Linked DNA regions of Homo sapiens. The protein of the gene in region 3 interacts with the protein of the main gene of each other region in a biochemical or structural test. Each region holds a gene or a part of one and is shown on either strand. Other genes may lie near its edges.

What was found.
Region 1: the proteins of UBE3B (region 3) and UBE2V1 form a complex in vitro, tested with the Homo sapiens proteins (one study listed by BioGRID).
Region 2: the proteins of UBE3B (region 3) and UBE2V2 form a complex in vitro, tested with the Homo sapiens proteins (one study listed by BioGRID).

The regions. Positions count from the first base shown.
Region 1 is NC_000020.11:50,082,150-50,089,256, forward strand, and holds part of UBE2V1 (ubiquitin-conjugating enzyme E2 variant 1), read right to left. Parts: intron 2,106-7,107; coding exon 1,980-2,105; intron 766-1,979; coding exon 619-765; 3' UTR 1-618. Other genes in the region: PEDS1-UBE2V1 (TMEM189-UBE2V1 fusion protein), read right to left, coding at 619-765, 1,980-2,105. UniProt on the Homo sapiens protein: Has no ubiquitin ligase activity on its own. The UBE2V1-UBE2N heterodimer catalyzes the synthesis of non-canonical poly-ubiquitin chains that are linked through Lys-63.
Region 2 is NC_000008.11:48,039,334-48,046,440, forward strand, and holds part of UBE2V2 (ubiquitin-conjugating enzyme E2 variant 2), read left to right. Parts: intron 1-3,699; coding exon 3,700-3,848; intron 3,849-7,107. UniProt on the Homo sapiens protein: Has no ubiquitin ligase activity on its own. The UBE2V2/UBE2N heterodimer catalyzes the synthesis of non-canonical poly-ubiquitin chains that are linked through 'Lys-63'. This type of poly-ubiquitination does not lead to protein degradation by the proteasome.
Region 3 is NC_000012.12:109,472,935-109,480,673, reverse strand, and holds the start of UBE3B (ubiquitin-protein ligase E3B), read right to left. Parts: upstream 3,041-7,739; 5' UTR 2,565-3,040; intron 1-2,564. Other genes in the region: KCTD10 (BTB/POZ domain-containing adapter for CUL3-mediated RhoA degradation protein 3), read left to right, coding at 3,412-3,414. UniProt on the Homo sapiens protein: E3 ubiquitin-protein ligase which accepts ubiquitin from an E2 ubiquitin-conjugating enzyme in the form of a thioester and then directly transfers the ubiquitin to targeted substrates.

The DNA.
Region 1 (7,107 bases), on a different chromosome or scaffold from region 3:
TGGAGGGGTTACAATCTATGCTTCGGCCAAGGGCGGGAGTGGAGGAGCGTGGGGACAGGATGATGGTTTGGAAGGGGCATCACTTAAGACTTAAAGAAACCAGGGGTGCAGGCGAAACACCCCACACACCTAGCAGTAGTCCCACAGGCTGCGACCTGAAACCTTCACATCTACTCTAACAAGCCCCCCAGGCTAGAGGGCTGTTGTTGCAGGGAGGGTGGGAGGCGGGAGGGTAAGGGGAGAAGGCAGAGACCCCAGGCCGTGTAATCAGCAGCAAGGTGATTGTGTGATGTGTCTTTTCACAGTTGAGTTAGATGTGCCCCACCAGTTATGATGGGAATCAATTTAAATAGACTTTCTTGATCCCAGAAGTTCAACTACGTGGACAGTGGTTACACTTGACAGGATGATTTGTTATAGCACAACTTATATATTTCAAATGGACAAAAAATTAGTATCATTTACAGTATCTTAAGATAAATTTCCTTTGAATGGGAGCTTCCTTTCCGGTACTTTGAGGTCTACAAGACGTATCTAGAAAATTTACTACTGTGGAAAATGAAGACTGATTAAATCGAATTGGGGGGAAGGGGAAGGGCCTGTGGTTTTTCTTTTTGATTAATTGCTGTAACACTGTCCTTCGGGCGGCTGAGGGAGTTTCATATTTTCTTTAGACATCATTAGGCGCCGAAGCTCTTGCAGGACAACTTTGATGCTATATGAATTCTGCCATTTTGCTAGCACTGATATGGCTCTTGGGTCCACCTACAACAAGGCAAACAAAAGCAAATTACTCTCAGACTCTCAAACAAAATAGCTATATGCCGGGGTTAAGCTAAGGTGCAAACTGGAGTAAGATGTACTTTTTAAGCTGAACCTGCTGCTAATCCTAATACCTTACATGCGGAATACCTACCTGCTAGAGTCCCTCCCTCCAGTCAGCCTGCCTTTCCCTTTTGTGCCCTGAACCATTACTATCTGGGATAAGGAAACGGTGGTACTGACACTTGGGTGAGACTCAACCCAGCCCTACTTGGCTCTTCAATAATGGCCGCTGCTGGGCTGGCGGCTGCCGGGCTCAGGACCTGTCCTCTTCACTGCGCCCAGGTCAGGGGGACAGATGTGCATGCAGGGCAGTACGGACAGCCAAGGCAAAGGGTGGCCAGGACACCTGCTCCAGTGACAAGGGCCTGCCACAGAGCCAGCACCTCTCAGGTTAAGGCAGCATTTCCCAAAATAAATTCCCCAAAGCACAGGTTGAGCTCTGGGCTCAGGACTTTAGGTGGAACTCAGATTCAGGATTAAACACTAAACACACTGTAACAAAGCTCATCTCTTTTCAATTTTCCAGTCTTCTGAGTATCTCAAAGACGAAGGCTTGGCGTGACGTTAACATGTGTAGCATCCCTTCAACACTTGCTGATCTCCTCTTTGAACAGGAGAGCAGGCCTCAAAGGCTCAAAGCTTTTGGCAAATGACACATGGAGTCAAGATTTATTAACATTGCTCTGTTTTTGTAATATTTACTGTTGCCATTATTGCCCAGTTATGACAACTGAGACAGGTTTTTCATTTATGGTAGTAAAAATAAAAAAGCAAGGCCATTAAAGGAAAAAAATATTACATGCCAGTGGTTCACAAATAAGGCCCAGGGGGGTAAAGGTGTAGCCCTGGGAAAGATCTTCCACGTCTGTGCCTCAGTTTCCTCATCTCTACCTCACTGGGGTGGCATGAGGAAAGAGCTCATATTTCAAAGCGACCAGCACAGAACTAGCCCAGGGTAAGTGCTATATGAGTGATCGCCAGATATAATTGGGAAACAGGCCCCATCCCAAATCTGTGCTCCTATGCACAGTGATACAGTTTATCAACAAATAACCAAAGAACCTAGGAATTGGGCCCAGTCTAAAAGCTCCTGATGTTAAGTACAAAGCAACTGTCAACTCCAAGGAACAAGTGGGACAGAGAAAACAACTTACCACTCCATTAGAACTATTTACTCCATTCATATTAATTTTTGTTACAAATCTTACAAAGGGGGGTGCTTCTGGGTATTTAGGTCCACATTCTATTTTAAGGCTGTATATTCGGTTTTCATAAATTGTCTGGAAAAAAAGAGTACGGAGATGTCACGCAATTACAAACAAAGCATTCAAAAAGGTAGAGCTTGTGAAACCCCATTTATCCCTGACTGTAGAACTGGTACATCTGCTTCCAGCATGGAGTCTACTTGTTCTGTGGTAGGTCAGCAGTTCTATACTAGTTCCTACACTAGTTTATATGACTTCCGGGCCTTGGGGGAATACAAAGAAGATGGAGCATTTAAGCTAGTACCAGTGAAGTTTTTAGTATTAAGTCTAATCAGAGGGACCTGTTTTTATGTTAATTTCTCTACTTTGCAGTCCTTCTCTGGGGAATGGTAAGAGGCATTCTCTATTCTAGGAAGCCGAGTTAAATGTCCACTCACCAGGATCATCAGCCAATCAGTTAAATAACACTATGTGGTATTAAAGCACAGAACAGGTCACTGCTTTAGAGAACCTCAAAATTAAGACAAGACGAGGGAGGGGTGCAGACTCAGAGCTGCTTCCCCCTTCTCCATCACTCCGGGGTTAGGCACTGGGTAAGGGATTTCAACTGGGGTGTTCCATCCCTCCCTGCAGTCTTTTTTTTTTTTTTTGGTAGTCTGACCTGAGAGATTACTGGCATTCAATGGGTGAGGCAGCACAGGGAAAAGCAGTCTTTTTTTTTTTTTTTTTTTTTTGAGACAGAGTTTTGCTCTTGTTGCCCAGGCTGGAGTGCAATGGTGCGATCTCGGCTCACCGCAACCTCCGCCTCCCGGGTTCAAGTGACTCTCCTGTCTCCTGAGTAGCTGGGATTACAGGCATGTGCCACCATGGCCGGGTAATTTTGTATTTTTAGTAGAGACAGGGTTTCTCCATGTTGGTCAGGCTGGTCTCGAACTCCTGACCTCAGCTGATCTGCCCTCTTCGGCCTCCCAAAGTGCTGGGATTACAGGCATGAGCCACCGTACCCAGCCAAAAACCGTCCTTCTTTAAAAGGCTAACTGTGCCTTTGTTGAGAAACACTGAAAAGTCCAACCCCCTATGCCAATAACCTCTTCACTGTACCATCTACCCCATAAGCAGGGAGATGCGCTCTGTTGCCCGGCTGTTCCTTCTGCTTGGAGCGTCCTGCCCCCACCTGAAATGCCTTGCAACCCTGAAGACCCAGCTCAAACACTACCTAGTCCCTAGCTTTCTATCCCATATGAAGTCACACTGCTATCACATGTGTCTGAAGACCACACTGAAGGGTGATGTCTCCCAGTAAAGAGTAACCCCCTCAAAGGCAGGGGCTCCCCTCTCTGTGGGTTCCCCTGTCAGGCATCAGTGCCTTCTCCGGCATCAGTACCCTCTCCGGCATCCGTGCCCTCTCCTCAGGAAAGGAGTCTTGTACTGCATAATTGCTCCCGTGTAAACAGCGGCATCTAGTGGTCTTTGGGGAGAATAAATCAGAGGATGTGATTTAAACCCTTGATTCAGAAGGCATTCATAATATACCCATGGAAACTTTTCTTGTCCACAGGGATCCCAAACTACAACCAAACCAAAACTGTGAATTTCTACCTACCCTCAACCTGCCCTCTTCCTCCTCAGTGAATGACATCAGCATCTACCCAGTTAGCTAAAGCAAAAACTAGCAGGCAACCCAATTCCCCTCTCCCTTACCCTCTACCTGCCAGTGGTCAGAAGGTCCCACTGTTCTACCTCTGAAAGAGACCCCACTGTTCTACCTCTGAAAGAGACCCCATATCCATCCACTTTCCTCCACCACCGTCACCTCTTCTGAACTCCCCCAAGTCTCTTTCTCTCTTGCTCCCGGCACAGCAGCCAGACCAACGTCTTAAAAACAGGAAGCTGTCTCTGCTGGCTTAACCCTCTGATGGCTCCTAGTGACCTGAAGAGGAAGCCAAAGTTCCCAGACTGACCCGGGCAGCCCTAACTGCCTCTTCTTTTACTCTTCTCCCTCCCCTGCCCACCATTCCTCTTCAACCTTGCCAAGTTCTCTCCACCTTGGGGCTCTCACCCCAGCTGCTTCCCCTTGGAAGTGTTCCCGATCCCCTCAGCCCCTCCCAACTGAGGCTCAGTTATGCATCAGACACCCTCACTAAACACAGAAAAAGGAGGGTGGGGGCCTTGACAGGGGCCCTCAACTGAATTGGTACTCAAATGTTTGTTGAATGTTTCTCTTCACACTTTTATATTATAAAATAAACACCTCATTGCAATTAAGGTGTTTCCTCAAAGAAAAAAAAAACCCAGTAAACAGAACAAGTAGGAAGCAAACAAAGGCATGACTCACATACAGATTTATGGAGAATATAACAGATCCATCCTCAGAACCTATCATAGTCTCCATCAACAACTATATACTCAGTGTTGACTGAATAGATCCTGAATGGAGCAAAAATCATGCTCCCTGGTTTTGTCACACAATTCAAGAATGAAATTCCTTACATTTTAAGGAATCAAATTTCTCACCACTGATATTCATCTGGTAATTTCACTGGAAGACAGTAAAAAAAAAAGCCTCAAGTCATCACAGACACACACCTGAAGGGTCATTTAAAAGCCCCAACCTAAGGCCGGGTGAGCTGGCTCACGCCTGTAATCCCAGCACTTCGGGAAGCCGAGACAGGCGGATCACAAGGTCAGTAGATCGAGACCATCCTGGCTAACACGGTGAAACCCTGTCTCTACTAAAAATACAAAACATTAGCCGGGTGTGGTTGTGGGCGCCTATAGTCCCAGCTACTTGTGAGGCTGAGGCAGGAGAATGGCACGAACCCGGGAGGTGGAGCTTGCAGTGAGCCGAGATTGCGCCACTGCACTCCAGCCTGGGCGACAGTGCGAGACTCCATCTCAAAAACAAAAAACAAAAAACAAAAAACCCCAAGCTAAGGCTGGGTGCGGTGGATGACGCCTGTAATCTCGGCATCTGGGGGGGCCGAGGTGGGTGGATAACCTGAGGTCAGGAGTTCGAGACCCATCTGGCCAACATGATGAAACCCTGTCTCTACTAAAAATACAAAAATTAGCCAGGCATATTGGCAGGTGCCTGTAGTCCCAGCTAACCGGGGGGCTGAGACAGGTGAACTGCTTAAACCTGGGAGGTGGAAGTTGCAGTGAGCCGAGACTGCACCACTCCACTCCAGCCTGGGTGACATTGCGACACTTTGTCAAAAAAAAAAAAAAAAAGCCCCAAGCTAGACTTTAATAGAAACCAGGGTTACAGGGTTTCTGGTTTTTTTATTTTGTTCATGAGTGCTCCAGGGACCTGCTAAAAAGGTTTCAGCAAAGGAAATGTGCCTGAAGGAGAATTGCTGGAACATTCTGCGTCTGTGAGAAATACTGCTCTTAAGATTCATTATTTGATCATGAAACAAACACTTTCCACTTTGTTGATATGGCTCATGCTTTGTGGAGCCGTTTGGCAGTGCTCATCAACATGTGAAATGGGCATGCTCAGACCAGCAGGCCCCTTCCTAGCAATTTCCTTCAGAGAGACGCAAACTTGTGCACAAAATGTGAAGCACTGTCTGCAATAGCAAAAATAACTACAATCTACATGTCTCCTTGCAAGGGACTATATGAACATGGCATATTCATATAACCCGGAGACTTCGTAGCCTTCTCAAAGGCCGAGGGACACTCCTTGGGCACACACACACATACGAAAGACTGGCAAAACATGGCACCAGGTATAGACGATACATTGTAGGATATGTATAGCCTATAAAAGCAGACATACACTTTCTTCCAATTCTGGATATATTTGTGTGCACACAGGCTACTTTGTCCATTAGGCACTACAGGCCCAGAGCCTGGAGATTATAAATTTTTCCTGGGCCAAATGCATACATATGAGATAACCCCAGTCTAATCATTAAAAAAAAAAAAAAAAAAAGACAAATTCCAATAGAGAGACAGTCTACAAAATACCTGACCAGTACTCCTCAAAACAGCCAAGGGCATCAAAAACAAGAAAAACCTGAGAAATGTCATTGCCACGAGGAGCCAGAGATATGATGACTAAGTGTAATGTGGTATCTTGGATGGGATTCTGGAACAAAAAACAGATATAAGTAAAAACTAAGAACACCTGAATAAAGTATGGACTTTAGCTAATAATAATGTATCAACGTTGGTTTATTGGTTGTGACAAATGTACCATAATAACATAAGATGCTAGCAACAGGGAAAAGGTAGCACAGGAAGTACTACCTTTGCAACTTTTCTATAAGCCTGTAAGTATTAGAAAATAAAATTTGTTTTAAAAATGTATGAGCTAGGCTAGGCACGGTGGCCCACGCCTGTAATCTCAGCACTTTGGGAGGCCAAGACAGGAGGACTGCGTGAGCCCAGGAGTTCAAGACCAGCCTGGGCAACAAAGTGAGACCCTGTCTCTACAAAAAGTAAAAAAAAATTAGCCAGGTGTGGTGGTGCGCCTGTGGTCTTGGCTACTTCGGAGGCTGAGGCAGGAGGATTACTTGATCCCAGGAGGTCAAGGCTACAGTGAGCTGTGATTGTGTCACTGAACTTCAGCCTGGGTGACAGAATGAGACCCTATCTCAAAAAAAAAAAAAAAAGTATGAGATATGAGAAAAGGAAAAAGGTATTAATTACAAAAATATGCAAGGAAAATTACAAAATCTAAACATACAAAAAGGAAACATTAGGTCAACCAGTCACCTGCTATTCAGTTCCAATCTTACATAGTTATATACAAATTACGTTTAATGTACAATGTGGGTACATGCTATGTTAGAATGCAGATCACAGTAACTGTTGGGGAGAAGAGTGGGGATATGGCAGTTAGGGATAAATCAGGAAAAAAGACTCCACACTAGGTTTTATAACAGAATTTAATATAAGACATTGCTTAAACAGGCGTCAGTGGACTGAAAATGTTCAAAGGGAATCTAAGCTAACACAGATGTAATAACGAAATGAAGCAGGATGGAAACTCTTAAGGGAGGGGGGGATAAGCTGGAGTTTACCAGGGTTGAGTTTACCAGGGTTGGAGGCTAAGGAAGAGGTCTGA
Region 2 (7,107 bases), on a different chromosome or scaffold from region 3:
CAATATCTACACGTTTGCCCAGATCAAGAATTATCAGACTTAGTATTTGTCAGTTTGGTGGCTAGAATAAGCCGTTATGATTCCCTGATTACTGATGAGGTTGAACATATTTTTATGTTTGTTGGTCATTACTGTTTTCTGTAAACCTTATTCCTAATATGTTCTCATTGTTCTCTAGGGTTTTCTTTTCCTTGTTGATTTCTAGGAGGAATTATTTCTGTATTTTGAATAACGTTCTTGTCTTCTATATGTTATTCACATCCTTTTTCAGTCTGTGGCTTATCTTTTCATTTAATCTGCCTATAATTGATTTTTATGTATACTATGAGATCAGATTGGGTTCTAATTTTATTTTTTCATATTGGTAAAGTGTTCCAACACCATTAACTTTTCCTACTTTTTTTTTCCTTCTCTTTTGAGACAGGGTTTCACTCTGTGGCCCAGGCTGGAGTGCAGTGGTGTGATCACAGATCACTGCAGTCTTGACCTCCCTGGGCTCAGGTGATCCCCACCTTCTGAATAGCTGGGACCACAGGCATGTGCCAGCTACCACACCTGGCTAATTTTTGTATTTTTTGTAGAGATGGGGTCTTGCCATGTTGCCCAGGCTGGTTTCCAACTCCTGGGCTCAGTTGATTGGCCTACCTTTGCCTCCCAAAATGCTGGGTTTACAAGTGTGAGCCGCCACCATGCCCAGCCTTTTCTACTTTTTTTTTTTTTTTTCTTTTGAAATAACTTCAGATTTGCAGAAAAGTTAACATAAGTAGTACGAAGGATTCCCATATACCTTCATGCAGATCCATCAAATGTTGATGTTTAACATTTTTGCTTGCTCTTGTGTGTACTCTCTCTTCCCCCCTCCCTTCACATTCGATTTTGTTTTTTGGGGGAACCATTCAAGGGTAAGTTAACAGATACTGTCTCTTCACCCCTACATTCTTCAACTAGGACATTTTCTTACAATAGAATTATCAAAATCAGGAAATTAATGTTGATAGAGGACTATTATCTACCAGCCCTATTCAGATTTCACCACTACTGTTCTTTAAAGCAAAATAATGATAATAATATTTTTCCTGATACCAAGATTGCATTTGGTTGTCATGCCTCTATTCTCTTTACTGACTTTTAGTGTTGCCTCTACTAAGAAGCACATTTTCATATATGATATGTCTGCTTTGGGGCTTTTCTTTTTCATTAGTCTGTCCATTTCTGTACTGATTCCATATTTTCTTAATGATTTCTTTAGCTGATGAGGAAGTCTTAAAATCTAGGAAAGTGTCCCCTCTGTTTTTTCTTTTTTTGTTTTGTTTTTGTTTTTGAGACAGTCTCGCTCTGTCTCCCGGGCAGGGGCTTGATCTCGGCTCACTTCAGCCTCCACCTCCTGGGTTCAAGCGATTCTGCAGCAGCCTTCCAAGTAGCTGGTTGGGATTACAGGTGTGCACCAGCATGCCTGGCTTATTTTTGTATTTTTAGTAGAGATGGGGTTTCATCATGTTGGCCAGGCTGGGTTTTTTTTTTTTTTTTTTTTTTGTGTGTGTGTGTGTGTGAGACAGAGTCTCACTCTGTCACCCAGGCTGGAGTGCAGTGGTGCGATCTCGGCTCACTGCAAGCTCTGCCTCCTGGGTTCACACCATTCTCCTGCCTCAGCCTCCCGAGTAGCTGGGACTACAGGCGCCCGCCACCACGCCTGGCTAATTTTTTGTATTTTTACTAGAGACAGGGTTTCACCGTGTTAGCCAGGATGGTCTCGATCTCCTGACCTCGTGATCTGCCCACCTCGGCCTCCCAAAGTGCTGGGATTACAGGCGTGAGCCACTGTGCCCGGCCTTTTTTGTTGTTTTTTTTTTTTTTTTAAGACAGAGTCTCGCTCTGTCGTCTAGGCTGGAGTGCAGTGGTGCGATCTCGGCTCACTGCAGCCTCCGCCTCTGGAACATTAAATGTTCCAGACCAGTCTGGCCAACACGGTGAAACTCCATCTTTACTAAAAATACAAAAATTAGCCGGGCATGGTGTTGCACGCCTGTAATCCCAGCTATTTGAGAGGCTGAGGCAGGAGAATAGCTTGAACCTGGGAGGTGGAGGTTGGCTCGGCTACAGAGCGAGACTCTGTCTCACACACACAAAATAACACAGCAGGTGTATGAGGAACATTAAATGTCTTTCCTAACTTACTGTATGCAAATAAAAGTAGATACTTAAGAAATTGTCTAAAAATATTTAGTAAACCCATTTCTACACAGACAAATTAAAAGTTCTGAGAAATCAGGCTAAAATCACCTCAAATTTATAAGGTTTGATTAATAAATATTTACCTTTGCATATACACGAAAGCAAAAAAAGGTAGGAATACTTTCAATTTCAGATAACAATAAATTGAAATCAAGTACAAATTTTGACTCCCCTTCCTAAACTGAATAAACTCTTAAAAAGCAGACACACTTTACTTGTGTAAACACTCTTCTTTTTTTTTTTTTTAAATGGAATTTCTCTCTTGTTGCCCAGGCTGGTGTGCAATGGTGTGATCTTGGCTCACCGCAACCTCCACCTCCCGGGTTCAAGCGATTCTCCTGCCTCAGCCTCCCGAGTAGCTGGGATTCCAGGCATGTGCCACCATGCCCGGCTAATTTCGTATTTCTAATAGAGATGGGGTTCCTCCATGTTGGTCAGGCTGGTCACGAACTCCCAATCTCAGGTGATCTGCCTGCCTCGGCCTCCCAAAGTGCTGGGATTACAGGCCCAGCCGTATCCACTCTTTTAAATTTAGGCATCCATGTCACTGGAATTATGTTTTTCACAGGATCACTTTTAAATTCATTAAGAAGTTTCTTTATGTATATAAGCCTATTCATTTTACTTGAAAGGTTTTCTGTCTTCCCAAAGTCAAATCCTTACTAACTAAAATTAGGAATTTTGAAAAACCATCCATGAAAATCTCACAAACACATTAAAAAATGTATTATCTAAGGTGCATAAAATTAAACTCCATATTACCAATAGCATTTAAGAAACTCATATAAAATGATAATGTTTTCTTTAAAGAGACATACTGAAAGCCAAGTCAGTTGTTCACAGGAGGTGGTTTTGCACCATTATTTGAACTTTGATGTGTGAATTTGCTTTAGAAGTCCATGGTCTGTTTACTCTCTGACAGATTCTGTTTTCACATGCCCCTCACATGAAGGTTCACTCCTCATTCTTTTTTTTTTTTTTTTGAGACAGGTTGGGTGGGACTGCTTCAGGATTCTAAAAGACAGTACCTTCTGGTGCACTTTCTAAGATGGAACATAATTCTACTCTTTGAAAATCATTAGAGAGTATATATTAATGAACTTTGGCTTCTATGAACTTTCTGGGCATGCCTGTTTGATTGGTGCAGAGTCCTTGGCTGTAACAGAAACATCAAATAGGGAAAACGATTTCCTTATGGTTGATTGACTTACATCAGTATAAAATTGATGAGGAATTTATATACACGTTGTATACTGCTGTTAATGTTTGGTACAGTGCTTTCTTTAGTGTTTTCATTTTGAGGGGTTATTAGATTCAGCATTTTCTGGAGCAGAATGCTTTTTAAAGGGGATTTGGTCTTTTTGGGAAATAATTTATAAAGGTTAATTTGGAAAAAGCTGAATTTAAATACGTGTAGCTCTTATAATTATGAGCTTTTTACATTTACACTGACGTTCTTTTGTATAGGAGTTAAAGTTCCTCGTAATTTTCGCTTGTTGGAAGAACTTGAAGAAGGACAAAAAGGAGTAGGCGACGGTACAGTTAGCTGGGGCCTTGAAGATGATGAAGATATGACACTTACAAGGTGGACAGGCATGATTATTGGGCCACCAAGGGTCAGTGTTATAAATTATATTTTTTCTATTAATACTTATTGTTAAAGTTAGCATTTAATTTTATACTATTGATATTAAAATAAGCAATTATGATAACTTCTAAAATAGTTCCTTTTTATTTTGTTTACATTTATTGATGCTTCCCACGTGCAGGATATAATGCTCGATTACGTAGAGGATTGGGGGGAGGAAGGTTGATATGGTCATTGCCATCAAAGTTTTGCAGTTTAGTAAGGGAGAAAAAATCAGTACAAATGACAGATTCTAAATATGACAGAGCAAGTTCACTACGGGACTTTAGAATATGTTTCTTCTAGCTGGAATAATTGAGGAAGGCTGAACAGTGGAGGAAGTTGCCTTTGGAATGATCCCTAAAGGACTGACTGGTAGGATTTCAGAAGGTGGTGATGGGGATGGAGAACATTCCAGATAGAGAGGAGAAAAGGTGAGGAAATGGAGGGGGTATGTGGGGAGAGCAGTCATTTTGACGTAACATGTTACCTCTTGTGTGAACCTGAGGGTTTCTAAATTGGTTTGCATTGAGTGCATGTTGCTATTTGCCCTCTGACACTTCACATGCCATAGAAATGCTGTAGGTCTCAGCTTCTTCATCTATAAAAAGTCTATGATTCTTACATTTTTTTCTAGTATGGTTGGCAACTGGCCCATTGTACTTTGTCTTTCTTGGGTTTATGAAGTTTTATTTTTACTCAAAGTCTTTTAGTCTTTTTTTCTAGCTTGGGATTTTTTTTTTTTTTTACATTGCATTCCTTACTTAATGGTCCCATCCACTGCACTCCCTGCAGTGAATCTTTGAAATTTGTCTCTCTAATGTTTTTGGCTTGTTGGAAAGAGCACACATTTGAAGGGTTTTTTAAGTCTTTGGTTTTGTATACTGGTTGCTACCTTATGATGAGAGCATTTTAACTGTTTTGCTCTTGGGTAGAGTTTAGAGTTCCTCCTGATGATGATGATGATGATGATGATGATGATTATTGAGACAACATCTTGTTCAGCCACCCAGGCTGGAGTGCAGTGGTGTGATCTCAGCATACTGCAATCTCAGCCTCCTGGGCTCAAGCGATCCTTCCACCTCAGCCTCCTGAGGTGGTGTGCACCACCACTGCTGGCTAATATTTGTAGTTTTTGTAGAGATGGGGTTTCACCATGTCGGCCAGGCTGGTCTCGAACTCCTGGCCTCAAGTGATCCACCTGCCTTGGCCTCCCAAAATGCTGGGATTACAGGTGTGAGCCACTGCACCCAGCCCCTCCTGATTATTACAAAAGAAAAATGTATCAGGTAATTAGCAACATTAATTATAGAGAATGAATTAGTGTGTGTTTTATGTTGTTTTCTGGTGTTCCTTTGCAAAATTCATGCACACTCCTACACTGATAGGCTCCCTGTTTACTCCCTTGCTCTATTTTTTCCTGAAGACATTTTAGGAAGGAAATATAATGTTGATATGTTGATGGATAGAGTTCCATATGACTTGGTATATATAATGGAAGCCTTGATTTTCACTGCCTGTGAACATCATTACTGTGGTCTGTTTGGTTTAAAAAAAGCGCTTATAATTGATGAACATTCTGACTTACTGATTTGAAGATTTAACAGTCAGAACTTGGTAGAATATAAATTTGAAATTATTTAGATTTCGTTTTTCTCTAGCCACTGCCTGCAGCAGACTTTAAGAATGTTTTGGAACTTGTGATGAGTTCATCAGTGGTCTTGTGGGCTGACCCACAGCACAGTTCCTAGCTGTCGTGGACCGGTTCCTGCTTGGTCTTTCACCCGGTTGGGGTCCCCTGCAGGATGCCCCAACTAGTTGCCATTCCTGGTGTCACCGAACCTCAGGAAACTCTATCCACTGGGATGGGGGTGAAGGCTGCTTCTCTGCAACTCTCTCCCCTCTCAGGGCACACAGACAAAATGCTACTGTGGTCCTCCATTCCCTGTGGGTGGTGGTTTTGGAGCTGCAGGAGAGAAAAGGTCATAATAGCCTTTCCTCACTTGTCTCAAGCTTCACGCTGAGGCACTTATAATAAAAAGCAGAGAAAAGCATACAAATTTATTTAAGTTTTACATGACATGGGAACATTCAGAAAGGAAGACCCAAAGAAACAGGGAAACCGTGTATTTTTATGCTAAATTTGATGAAGAGTGGACAGTGATGCAACAGCGTGATTGGATCTGATGGTAACACACTAGGTAATAAACTGGGGGAACTTACCAGGGCCTGTTTGTTCACATTATTCCTGTGTCTTTGGATTTCATTCCTTTCTTGGCATAAGACAAGACCCCTTTGGAGTGGTTCTCATGACCTACCTACTTCGTGGGGAGGTCAGCTAGATTTTAGGGTCTGCTTCAGGGGAGAAGGGGGCGAAGGTAAGGTAAGAGTAACCTTGCTTCTGCTGTTTTCTTAAGTGCCAAGGTGCCGTATTTTGGGATAGTATGTCCTGAACCTCATCAGAGACCCCCTCACTTCCTTTGAGTGCCAGGCAGAGGTAGGAGGGTGTGCCCTGCAAAGGCACAGGCTTCTTCTGGAACTGGCCTCTGCTCACCACCTGATGATCTTCTCTGCATCACCTTCTCAGTTCTCTTGAAGGCAGGTCACAGCAGGCATATTCAGTTGCCTTTTCATAAAACAGGCAGGAGTTGGTATCTTACCACAGTTGTTTTCTCCTTAGAAGGTGCAATGTTGAGAACAATTTTGTCCCCAGGGTAGAGTATCTACATCTAGCCAGGAGAGGAGGAAGACTTTTTTGTTTGTTTGTTTTTGAGACAGAGTTTGGCTCTTGTTGCCCAGGCTAAAGTGCAATGGTGTAATCTCAGATCACCGCAACCTCCGCCTCCCAGGTTCAAGCGGTTTTCCTGCCTCAGCCTCCCTAGTAGCTGGGATTACAGGCATGTGCCACCACTCCCAGCTAATTTTGTATTTTTATTTTTTTTTTTGAGACGGAGTCTTGCTCAGTCGCTCAGGCTGGAGTGCAGTGGCGCCATCTCGGCTCACTGCAAGCTCTGCCTCCCGCGTTCATACCATTCTCCTGCCTTAGCCTCCCGAGTAGTGGGACTACAGGGGCCTGTCACCACGCCCTGCTGATTTTTTGTATTTTTAGTAGAGATGGGGTTTCACCATGTTAGCCGGGATGGTCTCGATCTCCTGACCTTGTGATCCACCCGCCTCGGCCTCCCAAAGTGCTGGGATTACAGGCGTGAGCCACCGCGTCTGGCCTAATTTTGTATTTTTAGTGGGGA
Region 3 (7,739 bases):
GTCTAAGTCTTTTTTTTTTTTTTAAGGCAGGGTCTCGCTCTGTCATCCAAGCTGGAGTGCAGTGGTGCAATCATGGTTCATTGCAGCTTCTACCTCCCAGGCTCAAGCGATTCTCCCACCTCAGCTTCTCAAGTAGCTGGGACCACAGGTACATACCACCACATCTGGCTAGTTTTTAAATTTTTTGTAGAGGTGGGGTCTCGCTATATTGCCCAGGTTGGTGGTCTCAAACTCCTGGGCTCAAGAGATCCTCCTGCCTTGGCCTCCCAAAATGTTAGGATTACAGGTATGAGCCACCACACTGGGCCCTGAGTCTTTCCATCTTCATCTATTAATTGGCTTAGAGGTTGATAATGAGGACTAAATGTGATGATGCTTATCAGGTACCTATGGAGGTACTTGAGTGCACATTGTAGAGTGTATAGTCAGGAAGTCTAACTGGTGTATTATTTTTATAGACACAAGGATTAAAAAAAAAAAAAAACTCTTCAGCAGAGGCTCCCACCTGGACAGTTACTAAGGTTCTCTGGGTAGGAAATAATGCTGGCAGTCTGACATTTCTCACCCATTAACTTTTTTCCTATCTTAAATGCACTAAGATTCACCAGTCCTGTCCCTTGGGCTATGAACTCCTGGCCCTGTTGTTTAGAGTGAGTAACAGATTCAAGCTCCTCAGGACTGCAAAAGAGCAGGGCCCAAGCCACAAGCACAATGATATGCTCCCTCCATGACATGCAGACAGTGCCTCAATGGCAGAGGGTCCATGGAATTAGAAGGGGAAGAGGGAGCCTCTTCCCAAAAGAAAAACAAAGTTGCATGCAAACTGTACCTAAGCACTGTAAGACGATCTTAAAACTTTCACTTCTCCCAGGGGCCCTCCCAGAATAAGAAATTACTCTTATCCCCTTCCTTGAGATTATTATCCCTTCAGCAATGTTATTGGTTGATTTCTGTTCATATCATATAATAGCCTACACTTTACAGTTTTTCTCATCCTTTCCTATATACCTTCTCCACCTGCACAGTGTATACTATAGTTCGTCAATTAATAAAACACACAATCAAGTGTTTATTAAGTACTTATTTTGCTAAATGCCATGGAGAACCAAAGAAAAGGCTGTGCGCAGCAGAAAAAGTCTTGCATCAGAGAAAGCGGGCCTTGGTTCTTTTTAGTACTCCTTCTATCCGACATTTGGCCAAGTTACTTATCCTCTCTAGGCCTCAGTTTCCTTATGTGTAAATCGAGGGTAATAATAGTGTCTATGTCCTAGGGTTGCTGAAAGGATTAAATGCAACATTTATCCTTCTTGTACCTCAATTTAGTCATCACAACATTGTGATTAGGATTAAATGGGAAAATATTAATATAGGATATCTAAAAGCATGTAGCATGTAAGTGAGCTTTATTGTATTGTCCTTAAGAAGCTTGCAATCTAGTTAGGGAAACAAGAATCATATAGGTAGAAAGATTAGAAAATAAGAGGTTGGTGATAACCAAGATCATTTAAAAAAGTAAATGAGTGCCCATTATGTGTCAAGTCCTTTATAAGTGATCTCATCTAATAAGGAGAGGAGTCCTATGAGAAGATCATTCATGATCTCATCTACTCCAGTCTAGACCATTAGTATGTGGCAGAGTCAAGGCTGTAATAACTAAGAGGCAGGATTCAGACTCTTGTCTTACCTCTATATTTCCAAAGCTGAAGCATCATAAATACCAACTGCTGACTAAGCCAAGAGGATTGTCCCTGTGCAGTAGGAAAAGCTGGGCCACCAGGTTTAATGACCACCACCACTTGTTCTGGGCAGACGGTGTATCAGACACTGCACAGATTATTTAACCAACTTGTCTTTTCAACAGCTCTATCAGTTCTCGATAATCTTTGTTTTTTTGAGACGGAGTCTCACTTTGTTGCCCAGGCTGGAGTGCAGCGGCGCGAACTCTGCTCACTGCAACCTCCGCCTCCCAGGTTCAAGTGATTCTCCTGCTTCAGCCTCCCAAGTCGCTGGGATTAAAGGCGCCCGCCACCACGCCCGGCTAATTTTTGTATTTTTAGTAGAGATGCGGTTTCACCATGTTGGCCACGCTGGTCTTGAACTTCTGACCTCAGGTGATCCGCCCGCCTCGGCCTCCCAAAGTGCTAGGATTACAGGCGTGAGCCACCGTGGCCAGCCTCAATAATCTAATTTTTATTTAAAGAATAGGAAACACGACTTAAAGAGACTATTCATATTAACAGCTACTATTTATTGAAAGCTACAGCCTATCTAAGGTGGATGCTTTTGAATCTGAATCCATGTATATCCAAAACAGTTATTTATCACTAAGTAAAACAAACAAGATCCAGGGCTCCCCCGTTCACAGAATGGCCAAGCAAAGAGAAGTTGAGAGTGCAAGATTGCCTGTGGGGGCTAAGCTGGAGTTAAATTACGATCAAGTTTTTCTTTATTCAGAACTAGGTGTCAGGCACGGTACTAAAACGTATTCACACCCTCTGTGAAACCTGCTAATTACTCCATTTACACAGAAGGAAACTGAGGCTCAGAGAGGTGAGGGAACTCACCCAAGGTCACACAGCGAGCGAACAGTATTCGAACTCCAGTTTAGGTGAGTCCTGGGGCCCAGAGTCTTTCCTCGGCATCAACAACCACAGGAACAAATCACCCAGCATTAGTCCGTTTATAAAGGCCTACCGTCCCCAAAGTGAAAAGAGGTGGAAAGGGCCGCGGAAAGAGCCCCTGGAGCACACACGCCAGATCCCAGCACTTGTTCCTCCGACCTGGCCAGGCAGGGACTGTGCCCTAGAGCCAACTCCCTCAAAGTCCCCAGCCCCACCACTCGGAGGACTGACGACCCAGTTCTCCCGCAGGCCGGACCGCAGGCCCTACCGGCCTACCCGCAGGCCGACCTTTATTCGCCGGAGGTCCCCGCACTTGGGGTCGGGGCCGCAGCTGCCACTGTCTCAGCCCAAAACACCCGAGTTCTGCCAGACCCGGGGCAGCAGCCGACGCACTACCGCCATCTTGCCCCGCGGTGTTCGCTTTCAGAACCCCGCCAGGAAGCAAGCATCCAGTTCCGGAAAATGACAGTTCCGCAGAGCTTCTTCGCCCGGGAAGGAAAACTTCCCCACACCTTGCCTCCCCTCTGGCAGCTGAAATAGCGGAGGTGGGATAAATGCCCTCCCCAGCCGAGAAAAGCTGGAACCCACTCCGGCCGGGGAGGCTGGAAAGAAAACTGGCCCCTAGGCGCACAACGGACGGCTTAAGACGTTGCCCTCTGCGGGGCGGAAGTGGGGTGCGGACAGCGGAAGTTATCGCTCCGGCCCCGCCTCCGCCCCCGGCTGGCGTGAGCTGGGTGTTTCCTGCCTCTCTCAGTCCGGGTTTGGAGACTCCTGCGTCCTCCGACTTTTCATGGTAGGGAGGGCGGTGCCCATGGACTAGGGGTTGAGGGCGGCCGAGGGAGCTGGGCAGCAGCAGAGTATAAGAAGGGACCGAGAGGAGGGGGTGTGATGAGGGGCAGTCACGATAGTGGAGAGGCATTTGGGGGATTGGTTAGGGGAAAGGCCCGGGGTGGGGGAAGGGCTTTGGGTGGAGAATTAGGGGCGGGGGTGGTGGTAGGGAGGCTCCCTGGCGGTTAGGAATCCGGGAAGCACATTTGGGCTTGCGGAGTAGATACGTGTGTGCGTGAGGAAGGGGTGTCTCCAAGTGAGTCCTGAGTGCTGGTTGGAGATGGGAGTTGGTGATTGCGAGGAGAACAAAGAGATATCAATTGAAAACGGACATTTGGGGGTGGAAAATGAGGATTTGGAGGATTATGAAGGAGAATGAATGGGCAGGTTATGAGAAGGTGAGGTAGGATTCCTTGGGGCGGAGCGTTTGGCGTTTTGGAGGTTGTGGCTGGAGTCGCTGAGTTTCCAGGAAGTGGGGAAGGGGCTCCCAGGTGCGTCTGAACACACGGCCCAGTGAGGGAAAGAAATCGAGAGAGCCCAGCAGGCTGATGTGCGTTCAGTGCTTGGAATCCTGGGGAGAGATGCCAGGGGCCTGAGGTTAGGATACCTGCGCCACGGAGTTCAGTGCCTCAGCTGGCGCCTGGGTACCTATCTGTAACTTCCATTGAGGCCAGAGGTGACCACGCCTAAGGAGCGGAGGATGTTTCAAGATCTGTCTCTCAGCTGTGGGGTTTGTCTGCTTGGGATCCTCAAGGGTCTGTTCCCTGAGTAGCTCATTGTCCCTGGGTAGAGATGACCAAAGATTGGCCCAGATCTTCTTTCTACTTGCTTGCTTGTTTGTCACGTCCCTGGAAAGTGCAGTCTTAAGGGAAAATCAGTCCCAGTGACGCTGCTGAAGAAAAGTCAGTTATCCTGTAGCTGACGTTGACTAGTCCGCTCCATTTTGTGCAAAATAAGGACCAGCGGATGGGAAGAAGGCAGCATAAACCAGTGGTTCTCAAACTCTGGTCCCACCAGCAGCAACACCTGGTAACTTATTCAAAATGGCTGAAATTTCAAGCCCTGTCAGAGACTACTGAATCAGACATTCTTGGGGTGGAGCCCATCTATCGGTTTTAACAAGCCCTGCAAGGGATTAGACTAATGATTTCTTGATTTGGACTGTGTAATGAAAGGGGCAAAGGAGTTGGGAGTCAGAGGGCTCTTATAGGTGTGATTCCTAGTTTTCTCCCCAAAAAAGTGGGGTTGATGATAAACATCTTTCTCACTAGAACATTGAGAGAAATAGACCAAGAGTTTGTGTATTAAACACAGGGAGAGAATGTCATTTGATGGAAGTTGCAATTGGCGGTAGCTGTCTTATAAGCAAATTTTGGATGTAAAATGCTGCAATTATGTGACTTAGTTTAGTTGAAATGTAACAGCAGACTTTTCTGAGTTGTAGAAATGCCCTCAGTTTGGGAAGGTTTTATACAAGCCTCAATACAGTGTTTCTTAAACTTCTTTGCTGTAGGAATCCCCTGAGGTGATGCTTTGCCTCACATCCCTGGCAACTCTTAGATAAAGCTGGTTAAATACCTTAGCTAGGTGGCAGTAAGCCCTGGTCCCACATCCGAATCCCCCAAAGAGCTTTTTAAACACTAGTGACTGATCAGCCACCCCTCCGCATCTCTGAGATACTGATTAATTGATCTGGGGTGTAGCCCAGGCAAGCACAGGTGTGTGTGAGTTTGTTTTTGTTTTTTGGAGACAGGGTCTTGCTCTGTCGCCCAGGCTGGAGAGTGCACTGGTATTATCTTGGCTCACTAAAGCCTCACCTTCCCTGCCTCAAGCAGTCCTCCCACCGCAGTCTCCCGAGTAGCTGGGACTACAGGTGTGTGCCACCATGACCGGTTAATTTTTTTTTTTAATTTTTTTGTGGAGATTAGGTCTTATGTTGCTCAGGCTGGTCTCGAATTCCTGGGCTCAAGCAATCCTCCCGCCTCAGCCTCCCAAAGTGCTGGGATAATGGGTGTGAGCCACTGTGCCTGGCCTGGCATCATGTTTTTTAAGCACACGCAGGTGATTCTAGTAGCCAGGGTTGGGAACCACTGATCCCAATGTTTGAGACGCCCAAAGGAAACTACACAAAGGACTAGGTGCCAAATGCTTTAACATTCATTCTCTGAGGGTTTTGAAGATTATGGCTTTAACACTCCATTTTACAAGTTAGAAAACTGAGACTTGGGTTAAATTGCTTGAATTTCACGAAGGAAATGGTGGAACTGGATTGCAATCCAGGTTTGCCGAGACTATCCCGTTTTCCTTAACACACACACAGGCACACAAGACTTCTACAGAGAAGCATATAGAAAACGTGGGGTCAGGGATTTGGTGCGTTTTTTCCTACTGTACTTGCCTGAGCCTCCTTTTCAGTCGATGATTTTCCCCCTTCAGCTGATTTTTGTATTTTCATGCATGCATACAGTTGCTTCCTCCCTGTGGCTCTGAAGCTGTGAAGTGGGGGCTGGCTTTGGTTTATGGTGTTTTGGTTTGTTTTTAATGTGTCAGGTCAGGAATTCACTGGGCCAAGACCGTGGAGTTAATGGTAGCTTAAATAAGGGGTACAGTGCTTTTTAGAATAGTGGGCTCTAATCTTGGTGGGCTTTAAAATCTCCTGAGGGAGTTTTAAAAATTCTGTTGCCTAGTCCACATCCCGGACCAATTACATCAGAATTTTCATGGTAGGACCTAGGTGTCAGGAGTTTTGAGCTCCCAGCTGATTTCGATTGTCACCAACTGGAGAGCCACTGTTTAGAATCAGCAACATTATATTCAGGGGAGATGGAGAGAAGAGAGACTGACCATTTAACTGGAATAAACTTCTGATTGAATCAGATCCGTAGCCAGTATCTCAAGTATTCATTGCCTCTCTGTTTCATGTAACCAATTTTGCTGTCTCCTGCTTCACCTCCCCAGCTTCATTGGTAATGAAATCAAACCTTTGAAACAAGTCAAAAAGCAGGATCCTGGCCAGGCACGGTGGTTCATGCCTGTAATCTCAGCACTTTGGGAGGCCGAGGCAGATGGATCACTTGAGGTCGGGAGTTCGAGACCAGCCTGACCAATGTGGAGAAATCCCGTCTGTACTAAAAATACAAAATTAGCCAGTCGCGGTGGCTCACACCTGTAATCCGAGCACTTTGGGATGCCGAGGCAGAAGGATCACCTGAGGTCAGGAGTTTGAGACCAGCCTGACCAACATGGTGAAACCCCATCTCTACTAACAATATAAAATTAGCCAGGTGTGGTGGTGCATGCCTGTAATCCCAGCTACTCGGGAGGGTGAGGCAGGAGAATTGCTTGAACCTGGGAGGCAGACGTTGCGGTGAGCTGAGATCGTGCCGTTGTACTGTAGCCTGGGCAATAAGAGCAAAACTCAGTCTCAAAAAAAAAAAAAAAAGCAGGATTCCAGTAGCAACAGTGGGGAGAGTCCTCCCTAGAGAGGTTTGCTATGGTGGGGGTCTCTGGTCCACTGCCTCGTGTCCTAAGTTCACTGTAACTTGGGCTCAAGGACACGAATGCTGCCAAAACTTTTCCCCCAAGGGCCTTGCCTACTATTAGGTTGACTGACCTTTGGAGAGGGTGAGCTCTGAAAAGGTTTAGAGCTTTTGTTGCCTAATCTGTAGTCTCATTCTAGATCAGGATGGCTCCTGCCTTTATCTCTTAGTCATGCCGTCTGCCATTAGAGCTGGAAACAGTTTCCAAAGAGAAGATAGTTTGAGACTTCGGGAGCATTCTCAAATCATCATAATTTGAGTGTTTGGAGTGTTTACTCAGAGCTAGGGAGCCCTGTGAGGGAGGTGAGGCTTTTGGCCCTGGACACAGCTACTAAGTGGTAGGGCTGGGGCCTTATGCACAGGTCTAACTCCAAACCCTTAGCCACACTTTACCTCGCGACTATTTTCAGGGCTTTTTGTACTTTTTAAAGAAGGGAGGTGAGGCTGGCCTTTCTCAGCTTATGTATCATAGCTCTCAATCTACTAGGTGTGATGGTCTCTGGGCCAGCCACCACTTGCCCATGTCCTTCACTGGCCCCGTCACTGACTCAACTCCAGCTTGAGAGTGACTGACCCTGATGGGGCTGTGGCATCCAAATCCACAAAATGGAAATAACTATAGCTGTCTTCCAGCATTGTTTGAATTTGTAAAAGGCATGTGGTAGAAATGCAGTGGTCAAGGGACACCGAGGGGCTTTCTGGAGGCATGGAAATGTTCCAAGACAGCTTGATTGGAGTGGGGGCTACACAG